Homo sapiens: one gene and its partner. The protein of the gene in region 1 interacts with the protein of each later gene in a pairwise test. Each region holds a gene or a part of one and is shown on either strand. Other genes may lie near its edges.

Evidence for each region.
Region 2: the proteins of SYPL2 (region 1) and SLC41A1 interact in binary tests that used the Homo sapiens proteins (3 or more experiments, as listed by UniProt).

What each region holds. Positions count from the first base shown.
Region 1 is NC_000001.11:109,469,315-109,473,226, forward strand, and holds part of SYPL2 (synaptophysin-like protein 2), read left to right. Parts: intron 1-3,912.
Region 2 is NC_000001.11:205,806,287-205,810,198, forward strand, and holds part of SLC41A1 (solute carrier family 41 member 1), read right to left. Parts: coding exon 3,784-3,912; intron 1-3,783. UniProt on the Homo sapiens protein: Na(+)/Mg(2+) ion exchanger that acts as a predominant Mg(2+) efflux system at the plasma membrane.

The DNA of each region.
Region 1 (3,912 bases):
TCTTTGTGAAAAGAAAGTAATGTTATTCTTTTATTTGTCAGGAGCTTATCTTAGAGTTTTTTTTTTTTTAATTGAGAAATCAACTAATCTCACCTCAATTCCAATTCTGGAGTCTCACTAAGTCTATACTAAGCTAGCAAAAATAACCTGGACATAGACCAATTATTGGAGAACTAGTTTTTTTTTAAAAAAGAAAAGGACATCAAATCATAGGAGTTCAAGATAAAAAAGAAAAGAAAAGAAGTATCTTAAAAAAAATTTTCTTTTTAAGAAAAAGACACACTTTGGGAGGCTGAGGTGGGAGGATTGCTTGAGCCCAGGAGTTTGACACAAGCCTGGGCAATAAGGGGAGGTCGCGTCTCTATTAAAAAATAAAATTAGTTGGGTGTGATGACACATGCTTGTGGTCCCAGCTCCTTGGGAGGCTGAGGCTGGAGGATCATTGAGCCCAGGAGGTCGAGGCTGCAATGAGCTGCGCACTCCAGCCTGAGTGACAGAACTAGACCTTGTCTCAAAAAAAAAAAAAAAAAAAAAAAAAGGAAAATAAAACAAAAGAAAAAGGAAGATAGAGACAGATTTTTGAGGTCAGATAGGCTTCGGTTTAAATTGAGTCCCCTCTGCTTTCTTGCTTTCTAGCTCTGGAACCTTGAGTGAGTAAATATCAAATCTTTTTTTTTTTTCAGACAGGCTCTAAGATAGAGACTGGCTCTATCGCTGAGGCTGGAGTGCAGTGGTACGAACACATCTCACTGCAGCCTAAATTTCCAAGCTCAGGCAATCCTCCCACCTCAGCCTTTCAAGTATCTGGGACCAAAGGCACATGCCACCATGCCTAGCTAAGTTGTAAAAAATTTTTGTAAAAATCGGGTCTTGCTATGCTGCCCCAGCTGGCTTTGAGTTCCTGGGCTCAGGTGATATTCCCACCTCAGCCTCCAAAAGTGCTGAGATTACAGGCATGAGCCTGTTACCTCGCCTAAACAAAACAAAAAACAATGAGATAAGCGTGGGAGTAGGACCTGGGGAGAGAATTTGTCTTCCTTGTGCTCTGAGCTAACTGGTGATGTTAGTGTCCTCAGGACTGTCACAGGATTATCACCAGCGAGCATGTCAGTGCCAAAGGGGAGCCTCATCCTTAAACTGGAAAGGTTTAAGGTTGCAAAAGAGATGCAGAAGCAAGAGGAGGCGGAGGGCAGAAAATGACCGTCGCTGTCCCAGCAATGGAGGTCCAAGAGGAGAAAGGCTGGTTGGCACCAGAATGCTAGAACTCCCCCTTGTCTCAGGTCCTCTACCTCTCCTTGGCTGCTCTTTATAACCAGTTTGCTCATCTCAGAGCCTTGTGCTTGGTGACAGGGGTGATTTTAGTTCTTTCCTTCTCTTCTCTGTGTCTCAGTCACTTGGCAAAGTTAGGGAAGAAAGCAAATCTGGAGTGGAAAGATGGAGGGTTAGGAGACATGGAGGGGGTTGGGAGAAAGTGTCTTTCTGAGCTTCTGCACCCCAAGGCACAGAGCTACTCCTTCCCTCCTTGTAATCCTCAATGCACATGGTAGAGATCTCTTCTTTAGCCTCAATAACTCTGGGATGCAGTGTTTGTTTTTATTATTTTTTGTTTGTTTGTTTTGCTATGACGCTCCTTTCTTGATGTGAATTCTCAAGAGCAGGAGATAGGTGTTATTCGTCTTCATATCTCCAGCACCTGGCACAAGGTAGATGCTCAATCAGTGTTGAGTTAATGAGCAAATGAAATGGAAAGAGCACTGGACAGGGAATCAGGAGATGTGAATTCTAAGCCTGGCTCTCACATTAACTAAATGTGACTTTGGGAAAGTGACTTAATCTTTTGGGGCTTCACAGTCCCCCTCTGTGACATGAGATGATTGGGTGTGAGAATCTTTGAGGTCCCTTTTGTTCTGCTGTTCTGTGAACCTGTGATTCCCCTCAGATGTTCTCATTTTGCTCTGGTACCATCCGACTGTATAGTGTTCAGATTTAAACATATATTTTGGTAAATAAAAAATCATCGTGTAAGATCCCTGACTTGAAAAGAATCAGAATACAATAAATACTAAAGTTATTGTGGGTGTATTTTGCCCTCTGAGGAATCCGAAAGCATGATTCAGGATTGTCAGAACCTCAGGACCGTCGTTTAGACACAGCAGAACTTTTGGTAATAATGGAAAAGTTTTAGAATCGGTGCTCTCTAAGATAGTACCTGCTAGTCACATGAGGCTATTGGGCACTTGAAATGTGCCTAGCGTGACTGAACTGAATTTTTTTTTTTTTAGTAGAGACGGCATTTTGCCATGTTGGCCAGGCTGGTCTCGAACCCCTGACCTCAAGTGATTTGCCCGCCTTGGCCTCCTAAAGTGCTGGGATTACAGGCATGAGCCACCACACCCGGCCTGAACTTTTTTGTTGTTGTTTGATCCAGTCTCACTCTGTCATCCAGGCTGGAGTGCAGTGGCGTGATCATAGCTCATTGCAGCCTTGAACCCCTGGGCTCAAGTGATCCACACACTTCAGCAGCTGGGACTACAGGCATGTACCACCATGCCCGACTACTTTTTTTTTTTGGTAGAGATGGAGTCTTGCTATGATACCCAGGCTGGTCTTGAACTCCTGGCCTCAAGTGATCCTCCCACCTTGCTTCCCAAAGTGTTGGGATTACAGGTCTGAGACACTGCACCCGGCTTGAATTTTTTATTTAATTTAATTCTGATTAACTTAAACTTAAATAATCAAGCTTGGCTAGGGGCTACTGTTTTGGATAGTGCAGCTCTAGAGTATGAGCCCCATGAGGACAGAGATTTTGTTATTCTTTTTCTTTTTTTGAGATAGGGTCTCGCTCTGTCACCCAGGCTGGTGTCCAGTGGTGTGATCATGTAGCTTTGACCTCCTGGGCTCAAGAGATCTTCCCACATCAGCCCCCAGAGTAGCTGGGACCACAGATGTGCATCACCACACCTGGCTAATTTTTCTTGGCTAAATAAAAAGTTGGCTAGTCTCAAACTCCTGGGCTCAAGTGATCCTCCCACCTCAGCCTCCCAGAGTGCTGGGATTACAGGCATGAACCACCATGCTTGGCCTTTTTTCTCTTTTGTTCACTACTAGATAATAGTGCCTGGAACCATGCATAGTAGGCACTGTACATGCTAGGCATAGTACATGCTCTTAAATTTTATCTTTCTGTAGATGCTCAGGAGTGCCTTTCAGGAGAGTGCTGGTGAAGAGAAGGCTCCATAACTGACCGTTCACTGCCCCCAAGTTTTGAGTACCTACTTTCTTTTTCTTTACTTTTTTTTTTTTTTTTTTTTTTTGAGATGGGGGTCTTGTTCTGTTGCCCAGCCTGGAGTGCAGTGGCATGATCATAGCTCACTGCAGCCTTGAACTCCTGGGCTCAAGTGATTCCTCCCCATCAGCCTCCTGAGTAACTGGGACTATTAGCAGGCACCACCATGCCCAGCTAATTTTTTGTTTGTAGTTTCTGTAGGGGAGGGTCTTGCTATGTTGCCTATATGTTGCTAGTCTCAAATTCCTGGGCTCAAGCCATTCTCCTGCTTGGCCTCCCAAACTGCTGGGATTACAGCTGTGAGCCACCATGCCCGGCCCCTGCTTTCTTAAGGAACCTATAAGGAGCCATTCACTGACTAACTGCCAACGGGTAAAAATATTTCCAACTGTGCTGCCCTTCCCAGAATGTGACACCCTAATCACATCCAGTTCTGGGCACCAGAAGCTAAGAGGAATAAAGAAACTTCTAAGAGGAATCAGATGGCCACAGAACTGACAAAAGATTAGCGAATTCCTATGAGGAAGAGTTAGAGAAGTTCCACTATTACAATGGTGAGGCCACTTTGAGTAAGTAAAGGGTAATGATGCAGAGGCTTCGAGTGACTCTTCTCTACCTCTGTGAAG
Region 2 (3,912 bases), about 96 Mb from region 1:
CAGGAGCAGGCCAGGCACAGGAGGAATACTTCCTTCCCACTCTACTTCCCCAAGGCCACGCTTGCCATGCACTTTCATCGTTGTAGACTTCTGTATACACAGCAGGATCTACTTTGTTCAAGATCCTTAGCAGGTGAGTAGTGAGTTAAAATAAGGACCTGTCTTAACCTAGCTGGGAATTAAAGTGCAGATGGGCACACTACTTCCTGTCACCCCATCCCTCACAAAGGCTGACAGATAAAGGGAGTGAGACATCCGGAGCAGCCTAGGACCAAACTGGGCAGATGGGCACAAGGCTCCTGCAGTGAGGAGGCTCCCATATCCCAACCCCCTTCAGAAGCCAACACCAGGCCCCAGCCTGCTTCCCTTCCAGATGCTGCAGGAACTTTCAGCCATGGTTGGGAAGTTAGAGCAGATGGAGGTCCATTTATCCTTTTCCTACTTTGGGCCAGCACCAGCCCCTTATTTCACTGCAGATGCTGCTGTGCACATTTACGGGAGGGCAGATAAGAGGAGGCAGAAATGACCCTTCTAGGAAGAGAGTGGGTTTTCTTTTTCTTTTAAATTAAAATTAAAATTCAACTTTTTATTTTTATTTTTTTTGCATCTCGTTGGTGAAAAAGAAACCAAGTTTTCTACAGCAGCAAGGAAAGATGGGGGCCCTGGACCAAGGAGACATCTGAACCAGGCCCAATATGGACTCCTGCTCAGTTGCTCCAAGATGCTGGGGACACTCCATAGCCAGCTTCTCCAGATGGCCCCATGGTCTTGGGGCACTTTCAGATTCTCTTACTGAAGTCCATCTTAGCTTATGAAGGGGTAATATAGGTGTGAATCCTTAGAAACCATCCCGCTCTTCCTGAATCTGAGATTGTCAGTCCCCCTTTTACTCCCATGGATGTGGAATAACAATCTCCCTGTGGTCCCATGTCTCGGTCCCTCTGCACTCACCCCCTCCTGCCATCTCACTGTTGCCATCTGCAGGGCCTGCTCCAGCCCAGCTGTAGCAGGAAGGCTGGGGGAGGAGGACATGGACAAACCTGTCATTGTCATCCACACCAAGTGGACCCTAGCTCTGAGGTGAGCTGAGGTGCCACACTGAGAGCAGCTCCAAAGGTTCCCTACCCAGGCCTCTCAATGTCTCCAGCTCATGGGCCTGGAGTGGGGATGGGGCAACACATCAGAAACTTTGGAATCTAAGTGTGTGGGATGGGTAGGGGTGTGGTGTGTATGCGGGGGTCCCTCCCTACCCCATCTAAGAACTTTTATTCTTGCTCACTTCAGAAGATAACGCTAATTAATCCAGATTCTAATCCACCCAGTTCTTCAAGGAAAGACAAAGAAAATAGGCTCCTCGTAGAGTCTTTTTTTTTTTTTTTTTTTTTTTGAGACAGCGTTTGGCTCTGTTGCTGAGGCTGGAGTGCAGTGGTACAATCATAGCTCATTGCGACTTCAAACTCCTGGGCTCAAGTGATCACTCCTATCTCAGCCTCTCAAAGTGCTGGAATTATACGAGAATGCCACCATGCCTGACTATTTTTTTTTTTTTTGGTAGAGACAAGGTCTCACTTTGTTGCCCAGGCTGGTCTTGAACTCCTGGCTTCAAGCGATCCTCCTGCCTCAGCCTCCAAAAGTGCTGGGATTACAGGCATAAGCCACCATGCCCAGCCAGAGTTTTTTTTTTTTTGAGTTGGAGTCTCGCTCTGTCACCCAGGCTGGAGAGCAGTGGCACGATCTTGGCTCATTGCAGCCTCCACTTCTCGGGCTCAAATGATTCTCTTGCCTCAGCTTCCAAGTAGCTGGGACTACAGGTGCCTGCCACCATGCCCAGCTAATTTTTTGTATTTTTAGTAGAGACGGGGTTTCACTGTGTTGGCCAGACTGGTCTCAAACTCCTGACCTCAGGTGATCCGCCCGTCTTGACCTCCCAAAGTGCTAGGATTACAGGCATGAGCCACTGAGCTCGGCCCCCTCTCCGAGTTTTTAACCAACTGGTGAACCATGGCCATGGCGAAGGCCACAGGGGTTAGTGGTGTGGGCTCTAGGGTCAGATGACCAGGGACAAGTTACCTAATCCCTCTAAGCTACAAGTTCCCTACCTACAAAATGGAGATGATTATGGATCCTACCTCATGGGCCTACCGAAGAGCCCCCCAAATGCTTCCCCACTACCATTACTATTATCCAGAAAATAAGACAACTCTCTTCAGTTCACCTCTGGACCCTGGCTCTGCAACCCTTTGTAGGTATCAAACCAGAATGCAACAACTTCAAGAATGAGAACTGAGGCCACAGGAAAGGAATAGAAGAGGTGAAGAAAAATGTTACCCTAGTCTCTTTCTCCTCCTCCTACTGTCCCAGTCCCGGCCCTAGGGGGAGGAGCAGCCCCTAGCAGGAGGAACCCAAAGCTCCAGGCTGGCTTCCCAACCTCCATGTAGGAACAACCTTCAAGATAACAGTTTTGGGGAAAGGGGAGGCAGTGCAAGGCACTTTGGCATGACTTAAACAGCACTCTCATGAGCAACCAAAGGTGCAGGGTTCCCCTGAAGGGCTCAAGTCAAAGTTCTCCATGTGCACACACTATCAAGAACCAACCCCCTTCAGTCTCCCAGGACACAGGCATGGTGAGACCTACCAGCAGAACTCTATATCACTATGGTCTGTAGGGTTGGCTTGGCACAGGGAAGGTGATGCTAAGCTTCGTGTCCTTCTGGGAGATATCACAGTCAGGGAACACTGGGGGTCCCAAAAAGCAAAGGCCAGATCTCCTCCTGCCTTGGTATTAATATTTCTCTGAGTACCTAGGACAGAGGCCAGCATTCAGCAGGAATTTGATACACATTGCTGAATTACTTAGGTAAACCCAGCACCTTCAAAAAGTTTGGTGTGCCACACTGTGCCTAAAAAACTTTTATCTAAAAACAAAACTTTAACTCTTGGACCTGGAGGTTCTTCATAAGTCCTGACTCACAATAAATTAACATGGCACATCTCTGGCTCTTAGATTCCATGTCCCACCGACTCTCATCCTTCATTCTACCCAATGTCCTCAAAAAGAACCCTCTTTGCCCAGGGCAGGTTCAGAATGACAGGTGAGGAGCAAAGAGGAGAGACAGTTCTGCCCAGGCCTAGTTACATTTTGTCCCCATTTACAGCAGATAATTAGCACATTTGGGTCTTGTTACACCAAATCTCCAAATCATGCATCAGACAGCAAGTGCCCACCCCCACCCCCCAAGGGGATTATGCCAAGGTTACAGGAAGATAAGCAACACAAAATGCCTTCAAGAGCCTTCCTACTTAATTTGAGACCCTCTTGGCAGCTGAACAAATTCCTGCCCAGTAGGGGGATGGAGGAGAGGCTTGAAACTGAGCTTTCTACTATGGGTATCCTTGAAACCCCAAATGCAGGGGACAAAAGGCATAAAGAGGAGACCCTTGTAAATGTCTCCTACTGAGCTGGGCTCGGCAGGACTGCTTGGGAGAGATGGCAAGCAACGACCCTGTTCCATCTCTCCTCTCCCAAGCCTGAGCTCGGGAGCCAATTCTGTTTCTATTTAGCAATACTGCCCTGATCACCTCCCCAGGGCTACTCGGTTTCCTTGAGGCTTCTGTAGAAAGGAACTAGACCAAGAAGAAACCGAGGACATGATCCAAAGGAAAACAGTATTCTAGGAAGCAGCAGCCACTTCTGACAGGGAGGTAGAGAGGAAGTTCCAAGTTTCCCAGCAGGCAAAGGTGGCCCTGGGCTCACAGTCAAGAGCTGCCCTACTCAGGTCCTACCTGCACGATGTCCAACACCATGCCAGCAGCCACGGTCCCAAAGCCTGCCAGGAGGAATGGAAACAGTACTTGCAGCCCGATGGAAAAGGAGGTCTCCTTGAGCGGGGAAGGTGGCGCAGGGCCACGGTC